3 linked regions of the Homo sapiens genome follow. The protein of the gene in region 2 interacts with the protein of the main gene of each other region in a pairwise test. Each region holds a gene or a part of one and is shown on either strand. Other genes may lie near its edges.

Region 1 (7,019 bases), on a different chromosome or scaffold from region 2:
GGGAGGATGTGGAACGTGATGGGTTCCAGGCTCACCTGTGGGGTTGTGCCGGACCACAAAGAGGAAGGGTCTGTCCATGATGATCTCCTCGGGGGCCATGCGGGCTGAGACTATGACAGCTGCAAGAGAAGGGACAATGTCTTAGAACAGAGGGATGCTGGCACTGGCACCACCCCCACCCCCGCCGTTTTTCTTAGAGACAGGGTCTCCCTCTGTCGCCCAGGTGGGAGTGCAGTGGCACCTTCATGGCTCACTGCAGCCTTGAACTCATGGGCTCAAGTGATCCTCCCACCTCAGTCTCCCAAGTAACTGGGGCTACAGGTGCATGCCACCATGCCTGGCTAATTTTTTTCTAATTTTTGTAGAGACACAGTCTCATTATATTGCCCAGGCTGGTCTCAAATTCCTGGGCTCAAGCGATCCTCCTGCCTCGGCCTCCCAAAGTGCTGGGATTACAGGTGTGAGCCACTAAGCCCAGCTGGAAGTTGTTTGTTTTCCTGAATATGAACCTTAAAAGTTTAGGGACATCCTCTGAGACCTGGTTTCCTCCAGGAGCTTGGTAGCAATGGATCAGCTCTTCCCTTACACACATTTATCTAAATCCTTTAAGGGCTTATTGATAAGCTCTTTCTTTTCTTTTCTTCTCTTTCTTTCTCTTTCTTTCTTTCTTTCTTTCTTTCTTTCTTTCTTTCTTTCTTTCTTTCTTTCTTTCTTTTCTCTCTCTCTCTCTTTCTTTCTTTCTTTTCTTCAGAGTCATGCTCTATTGCCCAGGCTGGAGTGCAGCAGCGTGATCTCGGCTCACTGCAACCTCTGCCTCCTGGATTCAAGTGATTCTCCTGCCTCAGCCTCCCAAGTAGCTGGGACTACAGGCACATGCCACCACGCCTGCCTAATTTTTGTATTTTTAGTAGAGATAGGGTTTTGCCATGTTGCCCAGGCTGGTCTCGAATTCCTGACCTCAAGTGATCCACCTGCCTTGGTCCCCCAAAGCGCTGGGATTACAGGTGGGAGCCACCATGCCCAGCCTGATAAGCATGTTTCTTAAGTTTACTTCCCACTGTGGGAACAACTTGGGTTTTTCTTTAGGAGGCCTTTTCACAGTCAGGGAACTTAGGAGCCATCAGGCGAGGAAACAGGGTTCCATGGTCCCAAGCCCGTTTTCCAGGCTGAGAAACAGGTGGGGAGTGGGTGATGGCTGAGCACAGACAGAGCTGCTCTGTGCCGAGAGGGCTGCGGGGTCCTTTCCGGGTCTGGGGACCAGTTATCCTGAAGGGCGATGGAGGCGACACCCGTGGAGCCTCACCTGAGCCAGACTCACCTGTGGATGAGGAGGCCACCGTGCCACTCTCGTTCACCTCGATCTTCACTTTCTGCAGCGCCTGCGCGACGTGGAGAGGCTCTTGGTCTGAAACAGATGTGGATACAGGATTAGATCAGCTGCCGCTCTCAAGGAGAGGTTCCTTTTTCCTCTTAGGGGCCCCCGCAGTCCACTGGGGTGAGAAAATGCAAAGGAAAGTCTTCTTACCTGAAAGACTCGTGAAGTCAGCCTGAAACTGTCTGAACATGTCGGTCATTCCCAGGTTCTCTAGGGGCTTCCTGAGGTCGACTTCAGTCTCCAGGGAGAACCTGCAGATAGCAGCAAGAGGCTGCTCAAGCCGGGGTCCCCTCTGGCTGGCAGCTCCCACCTTTCCCCATCCCCTACCAGGTGTCCCCCGAATCAAGTGGCCAGAATAGGGACGGAGGTGAAGGTTGGAGAGGGAGGCCTGGTTCGTTCGTTCTTTCTTTCCTTTCTTTTTCTTTCTTTCTTTCTTTCTTTCTTTCTTTCTTTCTTTCTTTCTTTCTTTCTTTCTTTCTTTCTCTCTCTCTCTTTCTTTCTCTCTCTCTTCTTTCCTTTCCTTTCCTTCCTTCCTTCCTATTTTTCTTTTTTTTTTTTTGAAACAGATTCTTGCTCTGTCCCCCAGGCTGGAGTGCAGTGGCGTGATCTCGGCTCACTGCAGCCTCCACCTCCCAGGTTCATGTGATTCTCTGGCCTCAGCCTCCGGAGTAGCTGGGATCATAGGCGCTCGCTACCACGGCTGGCTAATTTTTGTATTTTTAATAGAGACAGGGTTTCACCATGTTGGCCAGGCTGGTCTCAAACTCCTGACCTCAAGTGATCCGCCCGCCTTGGCCTCCCCAAATGCTGAGATTACAGGCATGAGCCACCACACCCAGCCGGCCTGGTTCTTCTTCTAAAGCTGTTTACAAAGTCCCCCCTTAGAGCTGAAAATCCTAATATTCATGAACATTCTTCTGCAATCTCCCCACCCCCTCCCACCTATGACTAATTACTTTCCTCAAATAAGACAGTAGTTTCAGCATAATTTTATTCAGCCTGGCTGGGGTGGGGGAAGCTAAGGGCAAATTCTCCTGCAAGGATGTTGGAACAAAAATCTGTTCTGCAGATTGTGTTTCTGAGAGCTAACCCTGAAGAGGACTCAAGCAGGGGGCCTTTGTGCACTCTCTGCTTCTCACCAGGGCACAACTAATTACCTCCATTTTTATGAGCCAGAGAGAGAGGAGAAAAAAAAAAAAGAGGAAGAGAGAGGATGCAAGTGAGAGCACGCACCAGCTAACCAACTAAATTCTCCTCTTTCCCCAAGCCTGGCATTATAGCATCCGGAAATTTGGGATGAGCGTGGTGGGAGGCTTCCCTATAATTCTGGAGTTCCCCAGCTCCAGCCTTCTCCTTCTGCAGAAAGATTTCAAAAAATCTCTTTGCTTCCTTCTGCAGAAGGATTTCGAAAAATCTGCTTTCTTGGAACCCCAGCTAGAAGCTGCGCTTTGAGCTGCTCCGTCCTTGGAAGTGATTTCTTTTGTTTGGATGTTGACTTGAAAGGGTTGGGGATGGAAGTGCTGATGGGGCGACCCTAAGTAGATGTGGACTGATTGGGCCCCCACCTCCCTCATTTCTCTGACTCTCCTTTTGGGGGCTTTTGCTGGGTATTCTGGGGATAGTCAATGTGGGGGTGTGGTCAGGAAGAGCTGTCCCCTGCCCTCCAGCAGAAACAGGGGGAGGGATGATTGCAAGACTCATAATCAAACCCAGGCCACAGTTTCCCATCAGCCTCCCACACATGCATGTCCTGCAAGCATCACAGATCTGGGAAATTCAACCTGGGGGCGGTGACTTTAGGGAGCCAGGAGAGAGGGGTTGGTAGGTCGGGGAGATAGCGGGGTGGCTTACTTGGGCAGAACCAGGAGGCGGGGCAGCCTGGTCATGTTGCCTTTCCAGTGGCTGATGAGCTGGGCACTCAGAATGTTGGTGAGGGCAGAGAGAGGCACCTCTTTTTCATAAGGGGCAGCAATGAACATGCTGAGGGTGTCCCCGTGGTAGGGCAGTTCCAGGATGTCGTAGTAATGGCCATCGGGCGTGGTGAACTCAGCTGTGAAGACGACAAGATGGTTCGTTGGAAATGGCTCCAGCTCTCGCTGATGGCAACCCAGCACTGGGTTTTCACCTAGTTCTCCTGGCTTCTCCACTATTTCTGGAAGCCAGGCTCTCTCTCGCTCTTGGCTTTTGGGTATCCCCTGTTCACTGCTCCCCTATTCAGTATTTTAATTTCTATTTCCCTTCTCTTCTGCCAATTCAGTATCTTCTAATTTCTCTCTCTCTGTGTGTGTGCATGTGTGTGTGTGTGTGTGTGTGTGTAAGAGACAGGGTCTCACTGTCACACAGACTGGAGCGCAGTGGTGCAATCATAGCTCACTGCAGCCTCCGAATCCGGTTCAAATGTTCCTCCCGCCTCAGCTTCTGTATTTTGTTTGTTTGTTTGTTTGTTTGTTTTGAGAAGGAGTCTCACTCTGTCGCCCAGGCTGGAGTGCAATGGCATGATCTCGGCTCACTGCAACCTCCCCCTCCCGGGTTCAATAGATTCTCCCACCTCAGCCTCCTGAGTAGCTGGAATTACAGGCACCTGCTATCATGCCCAGCTAATTTTTGTATTTTTATACAGATGGGGTTTCACCATGTTGGCCAGGCTGGTCTTGAACTCCTGACCTCAGGTCATCCACCCGCCTTGACCTCCCAAAGTGCTGGGAATACAGGCGTGAGCCACCGTGCCTGGCCTCACCTCAGCTTCTTGAGTAGACTACAGATGCATGTCACCAAGCCTGGCTAATTAAAAAAAATTTTTTTTTTGTAGAGGCAGGGTCTTGCTATGCTGCCCAGACTGGTATTCAACTTCTGGCCTCAAGCAATCCCCCTTCTCAGCCTCCCAAAGTGCTGGGATTATAGGCGTGAGTCGCCGCGCCAGGCCTTCTCTGTCTCTTTTGGCCTTCCTTCACTTCCATTTTCCCCACACCCAGCCACCAGTTCATCCCAGTCCTCATCCTTTTTTTTTTTTTTTTTTTTTTGAATGGAATTTCACTCTTTTGCCCAGGCTGGGGTGAAGTGGCTCAATTTCGTTCGGCTCACTGCAACCTCCACCTCCCGGGCTCAAGTGATTCTCCTGCCTCAGCCTCCCGAGTAGCTGGGATTACAGGCGCCTGCCACCACACCTGGCTAATTTTTGCATTTTTAGTAGAGACAGGGTTTCACCATGTTGGCCAGGCTGGTCTCAAACTCCTGACCTCAAACTCCTGATCCACCTGCCTTGGCCTCCCAAAGTGCTGGGATTACAGGCGTGAGCCACAGCACCTGGAGTCCTCATCCTCTTAACCTCAACTCCCCCAGCAGGATTTCTCATCCCCAGGTAATCACACTAGCAACACACGAAGATGAGACCCTGGAGTCAGGTGGACAAATGTGGCCCTGAGGGAATCTCTGGATTTCAGCTTCTTCATCCTTCATGGGATAAACCTCCTGTCTTCTGTTCCCATTATCCTGATGTCTCCTGCTTGGGAAATCTTTGTCAAAGCTGGAGTATATTCTAGGGTCTCTCCTCCCTTAAAGGGGAGCATTCCCTGTGGTCTTCCTCCCTCAGAGGGTGACATTTTGGGTATTCCTTGGGAGACCCCAGGAATGAGATGCAGTTGCTGTGGGCTGTGGGGAAGGGGCTCTTGGACTTACTATAGTTGAACTTGTTGGTCTGAGCCATCATGGGCACAGAGACAGTGCTGCCGTCTGATTTGTGGAAGAGGCGGCGGTGGGTGCTGGAGTCGGGGAAGGGAGTCTTCCACTGGCCGTTGAAGTAGAGGGCATTCACCAGCACCAGCCGTGTCAGCTGGTCCACGGCTCCTTTCCCAAGCAAGTTGCTGATCATACCTATGGGAAAATCAATGATCAGGAAGATCAGGAAGTTAGACGATTTTGTTGTTGTTGTTGTTGTTGTTTTGAGATGGAGTCTCACTCTATTGCCAGGCTGGAGTGCAGTGGCGCGATCTCGGCTCGCTGCAACCTCTGTCTCCGGGGTTCAAGCAATTCTCCTGCCTCAGCCTCCCGAATAGCTGGGATTACAGGCGCCTGCCACCATGCCTGGCTAATTTTTGTATTTTTAGTAGAGACGGGGTTTCACCATGTTGGTCAGGCTCGTCTCAAACTCCTGACCTTTTGATCCACCTGCCTTAGCCTCCCAAAGTGCTGGGATTACAGGTGTGAGCCACCATGCCCGGCTGAAGTTAGACAAAGTTTTTAAGCCTTTTAGATGTTTCCCGGAGTCCCCAGTCCTCAATTGGATGTATGTCAAAGGGCTGCAGTCAGGGGTTTAAATGAACCCGTCTAGTTCCTTTTTTTGGAGACAAAGTCTTGCTCTGTCACCCAGGCTGGAGTGCAGTGGCATGATCTCAGCTCACTGCAGCCTCTGCCTCCCGGGTTCAAGTGATTCTTTGAACCTCATCCTCCCGAGCAGCTGGGATTATAGGCATGCGCCAACACACCTGGCTAATTTTTTGTATTTTTGACAGAGACAGGGTTTCACCATGTTGGCCAGGCTGGTCTCGAACTCCTGTGCTCAGGCAATCTGCCCGCCTTGGCCTCTCAAAGTGCTAGGATTAGAGGCGTGAGCCACCGTGCCCAGCCTAAGATTTGGTTCTTAAAGCATCCAGCCCTTTGTCCATAGAGAAGAGAATGCTGAAAAGGAGCATTTTTTAGGATATGTGGATTTGGTTTTTGTTTGTTTTTTAGAGATGAGGTCTTGTTCTGTGACCCAGGCTGGAGTGTGGTGGTGCAAACATAGCTCACTGCAGCCTTGAACTGCTGGACTCAAGTGATCCTCCCACCTCAGCCTCCCAAGTAGCTGGGACTACAGGTGTGCACCACCATGCCCGGCTGGTTTTTAAATTTTTTGAAGAGATGAGGTCTTGTTATGTTGGCCAGGCTGGTCTCAAACTCCAGGCCTCAAGCCTTCCTCTCGCCTAGACCTCCCAAAGTGTTGGGCTGGGATTACAGGTGTGAACTACTGCACCCAACTGGGATATGTGGATTTATTTCCAAATTCCCTTTCTCTTGAGGCCCAGGAAATGGGTTTCCTTTCCCTGCCTGCTCACCTTTTGTGTGTGTCTTCACCCAGTCATTGATGATGAATCTGGCTCTCTCCACCTCTGAAAAGTCCACTTGCTTGACCGTGCTCCGGAACAGCCTGAAGAAGTGGGGCATGAAGCCCTGGACCAGCTTCAGATCCCGCTGGACGAAGATCGCGTCTGTGGTGCTGATCTCATCCTTGTTCCATGGCCCCATGAGCTCCTTGTACAGATGCCGGAGGGCGGGGGCCATGCCCTTGTCTGCACCGGGACAGAGAGGAGAGGACATGTGAGGCTTATGCTGAATTGAGGGTTCCCAGCCGAGCCCACTTCCCCCACAAGGGGCTCCACTCTGATGGATGGGGGCTACCGTGCTTTCCCAGGGCTCTCTGGAGGGAGATTTCATTCCAGGATGAAATCTCTTTTCTGTATCTCCTTCCTTTCTTCAAAAGTCTCAGATCCCAACCCTTTCTTTGGGCTAGAATATTTTTCTCTGTTCTTAAATTATGAACCCTAAATATTTTCTTCCTGTTTTTTTTTTTTTTTTTTTTTTGAGTTGGAGTTTTGCTCTTGTCTCCCAG
Region 2 (7,194 bases):
CCCGGGGCTGCTTTCGGCCTCCCGCATCTCTTCCAGGGAAAGGAAAAGAGGTGGGCTGGGGCTTGGAGACCAGGCTGTCTGGACTCTAGGATGCAGAGGCCTCCAGACAGGCTCAGGGTGCTCTTCTCCCATGAAAGCAGCCGCTGGGAGGAGGAGGCTATGGTGCATCCATAAGTTGCCCCTCTGCTCCCCAGTTGTGCGACCAGCTGCTACCTCCTTCCTAGTCTTCTTCCCCACAGCTCAGCCATTCTCAGGAACCAGACAGCGTCCATGGACTTAGGTGAGAGATGGGCCGGGTAGAGCCATGGGTCCTACCAGCCGCTGACTGAGCGGCCCACGGCACAGAGTCCTGAGTTCCATACTCCCATCTGTGCCTCACTGGCGGCAGTCCTGCTCAAATACATCCTGGCTCTCCCCGGGACAGGCTGGGGATCCCCATTTGGCAGGAAGCCTCAGACTGGGGTCCCAGGAAGCCTAAAGGAGCCAGTGAGGTCTTTCCAGCCCCTACCTGAGCACCCTCCTCCCCACTTACCCAGTAATTGCTGTATTCAAAGAAACGGGAGCTTTTATTGGGGAGGGGGTGTTAGATCAGGCAGAAAGAGGTAGGTGGTCCAAACCTGCACTCCCAAAACAGGGTTTTCAAGTTTGAACTTCTCCACGGACTAAGAGGCTTAGGGCTGGAATGTCCCAGAGAGTCATGGATAGCCCTGGTGGCAGGCCATGGCACATTCCTTCCTTTTTCCTAAAATACCTTGATTCTGGGAGCAAGGATTAGGGCACGGTGCCCCCGTGGGTGGGTAGAAGGATGCCCCCCCACTGAGAGCCTTCCAACCACCCTTCCCAAATTACATTACTAAACCATTCTTGGGCACAGGGTGTTTTTAGTGAGCCAGGCTTCAGGAAGGGTCCTCATGGTGACTACTTCAACCCCACAACAGCCCAAGCTCTTCTGCTCAGCCCAGCCAAGACCCTAAACTCCAAAATTCTTGAAAATCAGAGAATCATTGCTGGCTTTGTGTGGTCACGGAGGGGTGGGGAACAGGGCACATGGTTCCAGCTCCACTAAGCCCCCTTCCCTCCTCTCTTCGTGTCCCATCAGCAAGTGAGCTGGATGCTGAAGCAGCAGGCAGAGTCCGGTGTTGGACATGGGAACTGAGGCACAGTGCAGATCAAGCCTTAACCTTGAGGGAAACACAGGTCACATAGCACAGCTGGGGGAACACAAAGCCTCTGCTTACTCCTGAAAGAGTGCTGTTTTCTGTCCTGTATGTGTGACGTGTCTGTGAGCGTGCAAGAAGCCCCTATCTTGACTGGGACAATGGCCAGTGAGTGTAGCTGGGGAAGAATTGAGAGCATGTCCAGGTCCCTTCCCCAGCCAACGCCCAAGATCAGGCCACAGCCTCCTCACAATCAATTGCCTCCTCACTCCTTGATCACTCAGTGCTGCCCAGGCCCAGCAGAACAGACTCTGCCAGCAGGCCCCACTAGCCCCAGCTCCTCTTTGGGTCTCAGGTCCCCTGAGGATATGGGGCTTCACCTGAAATGGTCTGAGGGCTTTTCCTTCTACACAGCAGGCATCAAGATCACCAAATAAAGGGACTATTGTGCCTGCCTGGAGCCCTGCCAGAGGTTTGGGCCCAGAGGGGCACACAGCAGGTGCTCAATAACTGCATTAAATGCACTAACAGTGAGGAAACACGCCCCTCAGACTAAGCAGTGAGTGCTGCTCACAGAATAGTCCCCATTGGGGGATGGCCCAAAGAGTCACTTTGGTCCCTCTGGGAAGTGAGAAGGCAAGTGAGAAGGCTGTGAGTCTTAACCTCCTCTAGAGGCCCACAGACAGACCATTCATTTCTAAGTCTCTACCCAGAGACGCACTGTGCTTCCCACCTTGGCCTGACATGTGGCAGGGTTAGAACACACCTCCTATCCCCTGCCAGCCCGCGTTCATGCCAAGTAGCACATATATGCCTAAACTCAGCACTTCCATAGTGCAGTGAATACATGTGTGTGTACAGCATCTCCGCATGGATGTACAGGATGTGTGTGTGTGTGCGTGCCCCCATGCTGTCTGCATTCAGGCTGTTCTTTTTGGTAAGACAGCTAAAAAAAGAATGGTCTGTGAAGGGACACTCCCTAGCACGCTGCAACACCTGAATATCTCCTTGAAAGGAGGGATCTTCTACTGCAGGAGACTCGTGGTAAAGGTGGCCAAGAAACATGGCAACGGTGGGGCTGAGGGCAAATGCTGGGCAACTGTGCTTCCCCATGTTCCCCTCCCCGTAGCCAAGACTCATTTCATGGAGGGAGATCTCAGCTTGGAAGAAGGCAGGAGTCACTGAGCCTCCCCAATCCAAACCCCTGAGAAGTGTCCTCCCTCTGGCCTCAGACCCTGCATCCTGTGGTCACAGACCCACAGTGAGAAAGGACCAGGCCCTAAGGAGCTGTGCTGTCTCTCCACGGCCCAGAGCGGGGGATGGGGATGGGGATGGGGATGGGGATGGGGATGGGGATGGGGGTAGGGGTGGGGGTGCTTTGGACTAACGTGGAGGGAATGGAAGGCAGGCCTGGTTCCACCCTGCATGCCCGACCCTGGCCCCAGCAGCCCCCACAAGGAGCTCAGCTGACCCTGGGTGTCTCCCTGTGATGGGAAGGGGTAAGACGAGGACTCAAAGGCAGAACCTGCAGAGTGCCCCAGACGCTGATACCTGCACAGTCAGTGCCACCCACCCAGGAGTTGAGGAGGCACTGGGTTTTGGGGTGAGGACACTGGACACCTCCCTGCTTCTTTCCCAGGCAGACAATCCTGGCGCAGCTCCCTTGGGTTGCTGTGTCTGGTGGAGCTGATCACAGGTGAGGGGCAGAGGGCAGTCTGGGGTCCGCCTATGGCCAGAGGAGCAGGTCAGGGCGGCGCCTTGCCGCCCCAGCTGTGGCCTGTTTGCTCAAGACGCTGAGGTCTCGGGGCCAGCTAACAATTGTTGAGCAAAATCCTTCGACAAACTTCACCTACGTGCAAGGACTCGAGGAGGGAATCACTCTTAGGAGTGGGAGAGTAATGTCTTTGCCTGTGCCCAGTGAAGGCCCATTGGAGCTGCAGCTCAGCTACCACTGTGTGGGAGAGAAGCTGGAAGACTGAGGGCTTCCTGGGCTGCTGGCCCAGGGTTGGGAGACAGCAGTCACCTGGCTTACCAGGCCTATGCCTGAAGCCCTGGGAAGCCAGGACGCAGGCCCCAGGCTGGGACAAAGCTACCCTGAAGGAGGGCAAAGGCTGCCAAGGCCAACCCCATGCCTGCCAAGGCCAGGCCTGGCCCATTTGGCCAAGGCCTAAGGTGTAAAACAAGGGGAGAGGTACAAGAGGCTGTGGGGTCTGGCTGGGATCCTTGGGGTCTTCCTTCTGCATTCTCCAAACGCCTAGAGCCAGCAGAAACGTTTCGTCTGATTAGAAGCCATCATTTCTATCCCAATCCCGGAAAATTGACTGCGGTGCAGAGAGGGAGGCCTGAGAAGCAGCCGTAGGGGAGAAGGTCCAAGCTAATTAGGAGGCAGCATCCGGGGGCCCATTAGAGCGCAGGCTGCTGTCACTCAGCCGGGCTGAGTTCCCGGGAGAAGAGGCTGGAGAAGGAGGGGCAGGCGGCCCCTCGACGAGGACACCGCTGGGAGCTGCCGGAACGGGCCCCGGGCTCTGCCCCCGCCCCGGCGCTGGCTCGAAGGCGCCCGCTCGGTGCGATCCTGTTCGGCAAACATTCACTCATCCTGGGCTGTTCTCGCCAGGGCTGGGGACTTCGAGGCGGCCGAGACGGGAGTTGATTCTAGGCGAAACAAGTCATTTGAGGCCTGAGGTGTGCACGAGCCGCCCGGGACTCGCAGGCCAGATGCGTTTCTTTTGTGAGGCCGAGGGAGAACTCGGTGTGTCACCGGGGAAGGAGGGAGAGGCGCGGCGAGGCCGCGGGGGGCGGGGAGGCGGCGGGAAGGTGGCTGCGGAGGGGGAGGGCGCGGGCGAGGCAGGGAGGGAGGGAGGGCGGCAGTGAGGGCGCGGCGGCGCGGGCGGCTTGGGGCTGGATTCCGCCCGCGCTCCCTCGCTCGCTCGCTCCCTCCCCAGCCCCCTCCCACCCAGGCCCACCCCACCCAGCACCCCTGGCGCAGGGACTGCTGGAACCTGGCTGTGCGCGCTGTCGCTTTAAGACAGACTCTGCCGGCGCCGTCCGGAGCCTTAGAAACCGGCCCCGGATCGCGAGCCGGAGCCGGAGCCGGAGCCGGGGCCGGCCGGGCTGCTGAGGCCCGAGCGGCAGGAGCGCAGCGCGGAGCGCTGAGCCAGGCGCCCAGTCGCGAGAAGCTGCCGCCGCCTCTGCCCGCCCGGCGCCGCAGCCCCGGGCGGTCCATGGGGCGGGCACGGCGTCGCTGCAGGCGCCGGCAGCCCTGGAGGGCAGCCGCTTAGGCGCTGCGCTCTTGTCCCCGCAGGTCGCAGCCAGGGCGGCGGGGCGCGCCCAGCCCCGGCCCCTGGAGCGCCCGCCGCGGTCCCCACCTCCATGGACGCCTTCAAGGGGGGCATGAGCCTGGAGCGGCTGCCGGAGGGGCTCCGGCCGCCGCCGCCGCCACCCCATGACATGGGGCCCGCCTTCCACCTGGCCCGGCCCGCCGACCCCCGCGAGCCGCTCGAGAACTCCGCCAGCGAGTCGTCTGACACGGAGCTGCCAGGTAAGCGCCGTTCCCCGCGCGGCGCGCACAGAGCCTACCCGGGCGCGGAGCACGGGGAGCTGGGAGCAGGGCCTGACGCCCGCGCCGCGCAACCAAGCTCCCTCTCCGCCCCAGAAGCGTCAGGAGCTTTCTTTTTCCCGTTCTCGACCTGACGGTGAACGCGGAAACTTACGCACACGCGAAGGCACTTCCACGCGGTCCCCACGCGCCAAGAGACTGGCAGATGCACGAGCCTACAGCTGGAGGGTTGGACTGACAGCCCCTCTTGATCAGGAGTAAATAGAACGGGAAAGAATTTGATTTGCGCAACTGGGCGCTAAGGAGCGGCTCGGACGAAGGGAGAGGAGGAGACCGAGAAAGGAAGAGGGGTGACGGGCGAGAGAACGCACTCAGAGAGACAGAGAGGGAGGTTAACACCGTGACAGTAGGCGACAGAATGAAAGAGACCAAAGAGAAGGGGCGGGCGGGAAGGGTAAACGGGGGGAGAGGGGTCATCAAGTAGAAGGGAGACACAGAGGACGGTGAGGGCGAGCGGGCCAACAGGCGCGGCCGGACTCCCAGCAAGGCCAGCCGGAACGCCGATCAAGGGATCCGGCCCACGTGCGCGGCCGAAGCCCGGAGCAGCCCGGCTCTGGCCCCCGCCCCGGCTCCTGCGCGTCTCCCTCCGCGCTGCCTTTTTTTGTCCGAGCTGGAGCTTTTTTCCAGCAGCGAACTGGGCCCGCGGGTGGCCGGCGCGGGCAGTGGGGCAGCGAATCCGCTGCCCAGCGCAGCCGGCCGGGTTCCGGAGGGGCTCCGAGCTCCCCGGTGTGGGCGCCTCTTCTGCGTTCATTTCTTAATACACAGCTGAATGTTTCTCTCCACTTTCTTAGTATCTGTTTCTCTTTTGCATCCCTAAGTGATTTTTCTGAGAGGTTGTTTGCTTGGTTAAAACATAATCAACGCTGAACTCTACTTTTGTTTTCAAAAGTTTTAAGCGCGGTCTTTGGTTGGTTTTATTTTTAAAACCTAGAGAGATATATAATCGTATATTGATTTTTTTGAACCAAATCTATGAGGATGAATTAATTTTAACTGTATCTTTCGATTCTGAAAGAATTAACGTACGAAGTGTAGGTCTGGAATTTAAAATATCTACATGCAACATTATTCTTCCGGAGATTTTAAAAAGTCAATCCAAAATGGCGCGTTTCTCCGGAATTTTCTCAAAATCCATTTACAGTGGTGTTATTTGGGGAATTTAAATTATCTAACTATAATGTGTTTCTCTGGGATTTAAAAATTATCTCTACAAGGGCCTTATTGGGAAGGAGTTAAAAATCTATCTACAACGGTACATTATTTTTTTAAATCCCAGAGAAATAAATGCTTCTGTCAACCTGGAGTTTATACACTTACAGCTCTGTATTTAGTTAGGGGTGTGTTTGTACGGAGCTTTCTGGCTTCTTAATTTACATTTGCTCTGTGTTTCTTCCTGTCTGATTTTGAGAATTTGTGGCCCTTTCAGTGTCTTTAGGCATAGAGCTGTGAGCTTTTCTGGGCTTCTGTGTTTTGTTTTTAAACTCTTTTTCTTTATGTATTAATGTTTCTATGACTGCGTGTGTTTTGTGTAGCTTCAAAGAGAGACAGACTAAAGCCCGAGGTCACCTAGACAGAGTCTGTCTGTCTGGGCTGCAGTTGGTGGGGTTTTCTAGGCTTTGGGACTGGAGGCCTGGAAGCAAGGCCGAGAACCCGGCTGTGTTGTGCCTGCCCAGTGGGGCTCCCATACACCCCTGAGGAGAAGAAAGTGGAGGGACTTTAGGCTGGAGAGATCTGATCCTAGTTCAGAAAAGCAGAGACCCCCTCAGATTTAGACCCCCTAAGAGTTCGCAAAACAAACAAACAAAAAGCATACATTTGCTGGGAACATCAGCAGCAGGGTCAGAATCTGAGCCGAGCTAAGGGTGCAGGCCCTGCCCAGCCAGGAACGCAGGCCCGCGGCTCCAGCTCCGATTCTTGGGCTCTTCTCCGCGGCACACCAGACTAGAGGTGCCTACTGACGACCAGCACCCGGCGGGCGCTTTCCAGTGGGGACAGTTCCCAGGAACCCTAGAGGGAGGGAGGGAGGGAAGACCGCCAGCGCTGGTGGCGAGCGGTTCGGTGGAGCCGGGACGGGGTGCAACGGGGCGTAAGCCCAGGTGACCCGCTCCCCGTCCTGCCTACTGCAGAGAAGGAGCGCGGCGGGGAACCCAAGGGGCCCGAGGACAGTGGTGCGGGAGGCACGGGCTGCGGCGGCGCAGACGACCCAGCCAAGAAGAAGAAGCAGCGGCGGCAACGTACGCACTTCACAAGCCAGCAGTTGCAAGAGCTAGAGGCCACGTTCCAGAGGAACCGCTACCCCGACATGAGCATGAGGGAGGAGATCGCCGTGTGGACCAACCTCACCGAGCCGCGCGTGCGGGTGAGCAAGGGGTGCGCGCCTAAGGGCACCCGCGCAGAGGGCTCCCGGGCCGCCTCTGCTGC
Region 3 (7,005 bases), on a different chromosome or scaffold from region 2:
CTGTGCTCGTTCTCCAGTGATTAGAACTGCAGTGATTTCCTTTTGTGCCATTCCCATCCCCTTCCTGCACTGTCCTACAGCTCTGGGGCACTTCCTGCCATGGTCCTAAGGGTACAGCCCCAAGTATGGACCATTTATAATTATGCAAAAGGGACACTGGCCCTATGAGAACCCCACAGCCTATACATTCCCATCTGGAGATCACGCAGTTATTATATCTTATTCCCAATTGGTTCTCATCATGGAATCTCCCTCTGGCTACCAAGGTGACTCATTTTTGCAAAGTAACCTTAGGTAGGGTACCTCATTAGAAGCGTTGGAAAGTCTACTGGATTATACCTGTTGTTTCTCCCTTATCTGCACAAGCAATTATCCCTTAAAGAACTCAAGGGTCGGTCAGGTGCGGTGGCTCACGCCTGTAATCCCAGCACTTTGGGAGGCTGAGGTGGGCGGATCACCTGAGGTCAGGAGTTCGAGACCAGCCTGACCAACATGGAGAAACCTCGTCTCTACTAAAAATATAAAATTAGCCAGGCATGGCGGCGCATGCCTGTAATCCTAGCTACTCGGGAGGTTTAGGCAGGAGAATTGCTTGAACCCGGGAGGCAAAGACTGCAGTGAGCTGAGATCATGCCATAGCACTCCCACCTGGGCAACAAGAGCAAGACTCTGTCTCAAAACAAACAAACAAAAAACAAACAAAAAAAGAACTCAAGGGTCTGTGGAGTGCCTTTGTCTTCTAGAAACCAAGGTGCTTCCCAGGCCTCACCTCACTCTGAAATTCTTGCCACTTGGGATCTCTAGCTTCCAGACTGGTGACAGGAATGCACAGTGAGAAGGATATACTGGATTTCGGAATGGCAGGGGCATTTGGATTCTATTTTAGCAGGGCAGGCCACAGGATGTTAACATGTTAAAATCGTGCTTGCTCCAGGGCCTGGGCTCACACACTCATACACAGCAGCCACATGGGCCCGGCCCACACAGACTTAATCGTCCTTCACCCCAAATCCAGGCTGGCCTTAGATTTTTTTTCTGCCCATCTCAGGGCCACTTGTAATAATCAGCATTGCTCCTTAAGATGAAATCCTCGTTGTTATGCTTTTATAAGAGCACAGGGCCATCCTATTTCCAAATGGAGGAATGCTACAAATGCGGTCGGAGTCACAGTGGATTTGGATTGATGAGCTCAGGGTCTTGACCTTAATGTTAACTATCCTGCCTCATGGAAGCATCATCTTGGTTTACGAAGGTCCCAAGAGCCTCTAGTATTCCTGATACCTCAAAGTTGGTGTCTGTGCCACAGCCACAGGTCCAGCAGGGCCCCACCACTCGCAAGACTGTCTGGCGATCGGCATCCTGGATGGAGAACTTGGGGAGGAAGGGATGCCAGGTCTGTAGCACGTGGCCAATGGTGGTGCCTGGTGGAGCCTGTACTTCCATCTGGGAGTGGGAAGCAGACAGGGTCACTGCGGAGGCAGGGGTCCCAGCTCTATCATCTGTCTATTTGGCCCTCACTAAACCTCCCATCCCCACCTGCCCACTCCCACCTGATCCAGGCCTCATCTCAGGTGGACCTCATCATTGTCCCGCCCCACCAAGGCCCGCCCTCCCGGCCCCCTCCCTCCGCCCACCTCCTGGAGGCCACAGGGGCAGCAGCTGCAGCCACAGTGCAGCGGGCGGAGCAAACGCAGCACCTCACGGTCCCCGGGGTCGGCCAGGCGGACACGCAGCGGCCGGCGGGCGCCACAGCACAGACGGGCGCAGCAGTTGCTCTCCTCGGCCGCCTGACCCAGGGGCTGCCCGGCCCCAGAGCGCAGTTCATACCGATTACAGGTCTCCCAGCCTAGGAACGCTGCCCGAGGTGACACGGGGAGACTCGTAGAGCCTCGCGCGCCCAGGAGCCCACCATCCGGGCCACCATCATGAGGTCCAACCTCCCACTCCTTCTACTTACTTTCCACTCGCTCAGCCTTCTGGTGAATCAAAATCTGATCAATCTGGAAAGAGAGGGGCGGCGCGCACATCAGCTGGCCCATCTGGACGCCCAAGTCCCCTCCCAGTCATCCTCCCTCCCTCCTTCCCACTCACCTGCACCAGGAATTCGAGGCCAGAAGGCACCCCTGGCAGTGGCAAGAAGGGGGCAGCAGACCCCAAGGCCACGGGGCCAGGCGAGGGGAAGAGGGCGAAGCCGGGAGCTGGGGCAGGTACCTGGGCGGGCACTGGCGCCTGCCCGGGCCCAGGATGTAGCGCCGGCTCCGGGTACCCAGGGGTGACAGGGTAGGGAGGTGGGGGCGAAGGGGCGTAGCCTTTGGGGGGCAAGTAGCCTGTAAAGCGGTGGGAGCAGGATAGATTAGAAAGGGACTCAAGGCCTCATCCCCTTATTCCTCAGCCCATGGGCCGCGAGGCTTCGGGGGAAACGTGGTGGCAAGAGGCAGAGAAAGATGGGGCAGGGGAGCAGGGTGGAGGTTCCCCGGAAGGAAGGGAGGGGCCCCACCCAGCCAGTCCGAGCACATTCCGGGAGGATGTGTTCAAACCCGGCTCCCAAGTCCGTGGGGGGGATAACGGAGACCCCCAGACTTGCGCGCACTTACCTGCCATGGGAGAAGGGCTGGGGTTTTCGAGATGATGGTGTCTGGGTGGCTTAGTTCTGGAAGCGGAGGCAAACTCGGAGATAGCCAGACAGACACAGAGACAGACACAAAGACGGAGAGGCAGCTGCGCCCGGCGCCGGCCCAGGGTCTCTTGGGCGGCGCCTCTGACTCGGGGAGAAACCCAAGTGTCAGTGGGCGGGACCGGGTACCTGGGACCCTGGATTCCCTCGGGGGCCCCAGAACCGCCCCCTCCCTTTGTTCTCCCATCCTGCGGAGGAGGCTGTGGGCCGACGGCAGGACAGATGGACCCGCGGTCAGACCGACAGCCCCACCCCAAGGGCGGTCTCCCTGACCCCTCTGTGCCCCCGCTCACCTGGAGCCCCCAGAAGAGCCCGGGTGCCTAGCACTCGGCAGCTCACAGGAGCTGGCGGAGGCGGAGGCGGGCCCGAGCTCGGACCCCGGCCCCGCCCCCCGACCCGCCGAGCCCGCCCCCTCCTGGGCGGTGCGTTTGCGCCGGGAGGAAGGCAGCCGTCCGCTGCCCCGGGAAGCCGATCGTGGGCTTTGCTCCTCGGCGTCGCCGACGTTCCCGCCCCTTCCGCTCGGACTGCAGATGCCCAGAGAGTAGGAGCGCCTGGAGAAGGCGGCGGCTGGTCCCGGGCCCCGCGAACGCCGCCAGGCCGGCGGCGTGCGTGCTCAGCGCCCTGGGTGGGAGGCGAGGGCGGCCCGGGCCGCGCTGGCCCCTGGGCTCCTCCTCCCAAGGGCAGTCGGGCCTCGCTGACGCAGCGGAACACCCTTCACACTCACTCATTGGCTTCCAGGACTGGCTCCTGGCTCGCCTTCTGCCTCCCAGGGGCGACCTCGCCGTCTTCTCTCCCTGGCACAGCGGTGACCCACACGGGCACCTCGCAGCGACAGCAGTTTCTGCAGGTGCCCCAGCCACGCGGGTGACAGGCCGCCAAACGGTGTCAGTGAGCGTGCTCAGGCCGCCTAGAGGGCCAGAGGAGGAAGCGCGGTCAGAAAAGACCCCCGAGATGAGTGTCTTCGACTGGATCCTGAGCCAGGACCAGTCCTGCCTTGGGGGCCACTGGCTGAGTGGCGCAAGAGATGAGTTTAGAAACGGAGTGCAGTCCACATACAGGGCGGGTTGTGTGGAAGCTGCGATTTGGCCCCACGAGCAGCGAGGAGTCCACCGAGACATTTTTAGAACAAAGAAGGTCAAATGTGTGTTTTAGAAAGATCGTGGCGGGGCGCGGTGGCTCACGCCTGTAATTCCAGCACTTTGGGAGGCCGAGGTGGGCGGATCACCTGAGGTCAGGAGTTTGAGACCAGCCTGGCCAACATGGCAAAAACCCATCTCTACTAAAAATACAAAAATTAGCCGGGTGTGGTGGCGGGCGCCTGTAGTCCCAGCTATGCAGGAGGCTGAGGTAGGAGAAACTCTTGAACCCGGGAGGCAGAGGTTGCAGTGAGCCGAGATTACGCCATTGCACTCCAGCCTGGGCAACAGAGCGAGACTCCATCTCAAAATAAATAAATAAATAAATAAATATTTATTTAGACATCACCAATAAGGCGAAGGCATCACCAATAAGGCGATAGTTAGGCCGGGCACGGTGGCTCACGCCTGTAATCCCAGCACTTTGGGAGGCCGAGGCAGGCGAATCATGAGGTCAGGAGATGGAGACCATCCTGGCCAATATGGTGAAACCCCGTCTCTACTAAAATACAAAAAAATTAGCCAGGTGTGGTGGCGGGCGCTTGTAGTCCCAGCTACTCGGGAGGCTGAGGCAGGGGAATCGCTTGAACCTGGGAGGCAGAGGTTGTAGTGAGCTGAGATCTTGCCACTGCACTCCAGCCTGGCGACAAAGCAAGACTCCGTCTCAAAAAAAAAAAAGAAAGAAAAGAAAGAAAGAAAGAAAGAAGATGATAGTTGACCCAGAACCTAAAGGAGATGAGGGACTGAGCTGTGCAGATTACTGGGTAAGTGTTTCAGGCAGAGGGAACAGCAAGGGCATAGGTCCTGAGGCAGAAGACCAGTGAGACTGGAATGGAGTTAATGAGGGGAAGGTCAGAGGGGTCACAAGAAGCCAGGTCACGCATGGCCTTTTAGTCCACTGAATTATACCCTGAGATGGGAAATGTTGGAGGGTCTGGACAGAGAAGAGACGTGAGACGTACTGCAGTGGTTCTCCATGTGGAGGTTCCCCCTGTGCCCTAGATGCCACCTGAGGTGAAGGATGGAAATGCAGTGAGAGCACTGGACTGGGAGGAAGGAGCCTACAGACCCAGCCTTGGCTCTGCCACTGGACCTTTGGGTCACTCTGGTTTTTCTGTTTTTTTGAGAGTCTCACTCTGCCACCCAGGCTGGAGTGCAGTGGCGCTATCTTGGCTCACTGCAACCTCCACCTCCCAGGCTCAAGCAATTCTTCTGCCTCAGCCTCCCAAGCAGCCAGGACTACAGCCACCACACCCGGCTAATTTTTGTATTTTTAGTAGAGACAGGGTTTCTGCATGTTGGCCAGGCCGGTCTGGAACTCTTGGCCTCAAGTGATCCTTACACCTTGGCCTCCCAAAGTGTTGGGATTACAGGCATGAGCTACTGCACCCAGCCCCTTTGGGCCACTCTGGAGGTCCCCTCTAAGGGTTTGTTTGTTTGTTTGTTTGTTTGTTTATTGAGACAGGGTCTTGCTCTGTTGCCCAGGCTGGAATACAGTGGCATGATCTCCACTCATTACAACTTCTGTTTCCCAGGATCAAGGCATCCTCCCACCTCAGCCTCCCGAGTACCTGGGACTACAGGCATGGGCCACCATGTCCAGCTAATTTTTGTATTTTTTGTAGAGATGGGGTTTTGCCATGTTGCCCAGGCTGGTCTTCAACTCCTGGGCTCCAACAGTACACCTGCCTCAGCCTCCGAAAGTGCTGAGATTACAGGTGTGGGCCATCACACCCAGCATATTTATTTATTTATTTATGAGACTGAGGTCTTGCTCCGTCACCCAGGAGGGAGTGCAGTGGCACCATCAGAGATCACTGCAGCCTCAAACTCCTAGGTTCGGCCGGGCACAGTGGCTCACATCTCTAATTCCAGTACTTCACATCTCTAATCCCACTCTGCCCAGGCAGGCAGAGCACTGAAGATCAGGAGTTTGAGACCAGCCCGGCCAACACAGTGAAACCCCGTCTCCACTAAAAATACAAAAAAATTGCCCAGGCGTGGTTGGCACATGCCTGTAATCCCAGCTACTCAGGAGGCTGAGGCATGAGAATCGCTTGAACCCGGGAGGCAGAGGCTGCAGCAAGCTGAGATTGCACCACTGCATTCCAGCCTGGGCAACAGAGCGAGACTACATCTCAAACAAAAACAAAACAAAATTCTTAGGCTCAAGCTATCCTCATGCCTGGGGATCCTCAAGCTGGGACTACAGGCACATACTACCACATTATTATTATTTTATTATTATTATTATTATTTTTGAGATGGAGTTTTGCTCTCGTTGCCCAGGCTGGAGTGCAATGGCCTCCCAGGTTTAAGCGATTCTCCTGCCTCAGCCTCCTGAGTAGCTGGGATTACAGGTGCCTGCCACCACACCTAGATAATTTTTGTATTTTTAGTAGAGACAGCGTTTCACCACTTTGGCCAGGCTGTTCTTGAACTCCTGACCTCAGGTCATCCACCTGCCTCGGCCTCCCAAAGTGCTGGGATATTTTTATTTTTTTAGAGACAGCATCTCACTATGTTGCCCAGGCTGCTCTTGAACGCCTGAGCTCTAGCTATTCTCCCACTGTAGCCTCCCAAGTAACTGGGTAGGGGGCTGAAGCAGGAGGATTGCTTGAGCCTAGCAGTTCGAGACTAGCCTAGGCAGCCGACATGGTGAGACCCCATCTCATCTCTTTCTTGAACCTCCTGGGTTCAAGCAATTCTCCTGCCTCAGCCTCCCGAGTAGCTGGGACTACAGGTGCGCACCACCATACCCTGATAATTTTTGTATTTTTAGTAGAGATTGGGTTTCACCATGCCGGACAGGCTGGTCTCGAACTCCTGAACTTGTGATCTGCCCGCCTCGGCCTCCCAAAGTGTTGGGATTACAGGCATGAGCCACCGCACCCGGCAAGACCCCATCTCTACAAAAAAGTAATAATTAGCTAGTCGTGGTAGCTTACACCTGTAGTCCCAGCTACTCGGGAGGCCGAGGTGAGAGAATTGCTTGACCCTGGGAGATGGAGACTGCAGCGAGTCCTTATGGCACCACTGCATTACAGCTGGGTGACAAAGCGAGACCCTGTCTCAAACAAAACGAAAAAGCACAGAGAGGCGGTGGAACAGCTGGAGGGTGGAGGGTGTGCCCCTTCAGATGTGGAAGGCCTCACCAAGGTGATCCTATTGAAGCTAAACTAAGCTTGCACAAAG

Evidence for each region. The genes of interacting proteins can lie anywhere in the genome.
Region 1: the proteins of PITX1 (region 2) and SERPINE1 interact in binary tests that used the Homo sapiens proteins (3 or more experiments, as listed by UniProt).
Region 3: the proteins of PITX1 (region 2) and PLSCR3 interact in binary tests that used the Homo sapiens proteins (3 or more experiments, as listed by UniProt).

The regions. Positions count from the first base shown.
Region 1 is NC_000007.14:101,130,101-101,137,119, reverse strand, and holds part of SERPINE1 (plasminogen activator inhibitor 1 isoform 2 precursor), read right to left. Parts: intron 6,700-7,019; coding exon 6,466-6,699; intron 5,246-6,465; coding exon 5,051-5,245; intron 3,426-5,050; coding exon 3,227-3,425; intron 1,627-3,226; coding exon 1,526-1,626; intron 1,406-1,525; coding exon 1,319-1,405; coding exon of another isoform or gene 1,304-1,318; intron 141-1,303; coding exon of another isoform or gene 120-140; coding exon 36-119; intron 1-35. UniProt on the Homo sapiens protein: Serine protease inhibitor. Inhibits TMPRSS7. Is a primary inhibitor of tissue-type plasminogen activator (PLAT) and urokinase-type plasminogen activator (PLAU).
Region 2 is NC_000005.10:135,031,214-135,038,407, reverse strand, and holds the start of PITX1 (pituitary homeobox 1), read left to right. Parts: upstream 1-4,179; 5' UTR 4,180-4,458; coding exon of another isoform or gene 4,459-4,526; coding exon 4,527-4,695; intron 4,696-4,867; exon of another isoform or gene 4,868-5,134; intron 5,135-6,899; coding exon 6,900-7,132; intron 7,133-7,194. UniProt on the Homo sapiens protein: Sequence-specific transcription factor that binds gene promoters and activates their transcription. May play a role in the development of anterior structures, and in particular, the brain and facies and in specifying the identity or structure of hindlimb.
Region 3 is NC_000017.11:7,391,510-7,398,514, forward strand, and holds the start of PLSCR3 (phospholipid scramblase 3), read right to left. Parts: upstream 3,017-7,005; 5' UTR 2,968-3,016; intron 2,763-2,967; exon of another isoform or gene 2,759-2,762; 5' UTR 2,602-2,758; coding exon 2,595-2,601; intron 2,328-2,594; coding exon 2,092-2,327; intron 2,001-2,091; coding exon 1,958-2,000; intron 1,856-1,957; coding exon 1,635-1,855; intron 1,470-1,634; coding exon of another isoform or gene 1,444-1,469; coding exon 1,282-1,443; intron 1-1,281. UniProt on the Homo sapiens protein: Catalyzes calcium-induced ATP-independent rapid bidirectional and non-specific movement of the phospholipids (lipid scrambling or lipid flip-flop) between the inner and outer membrane of the mitochondria.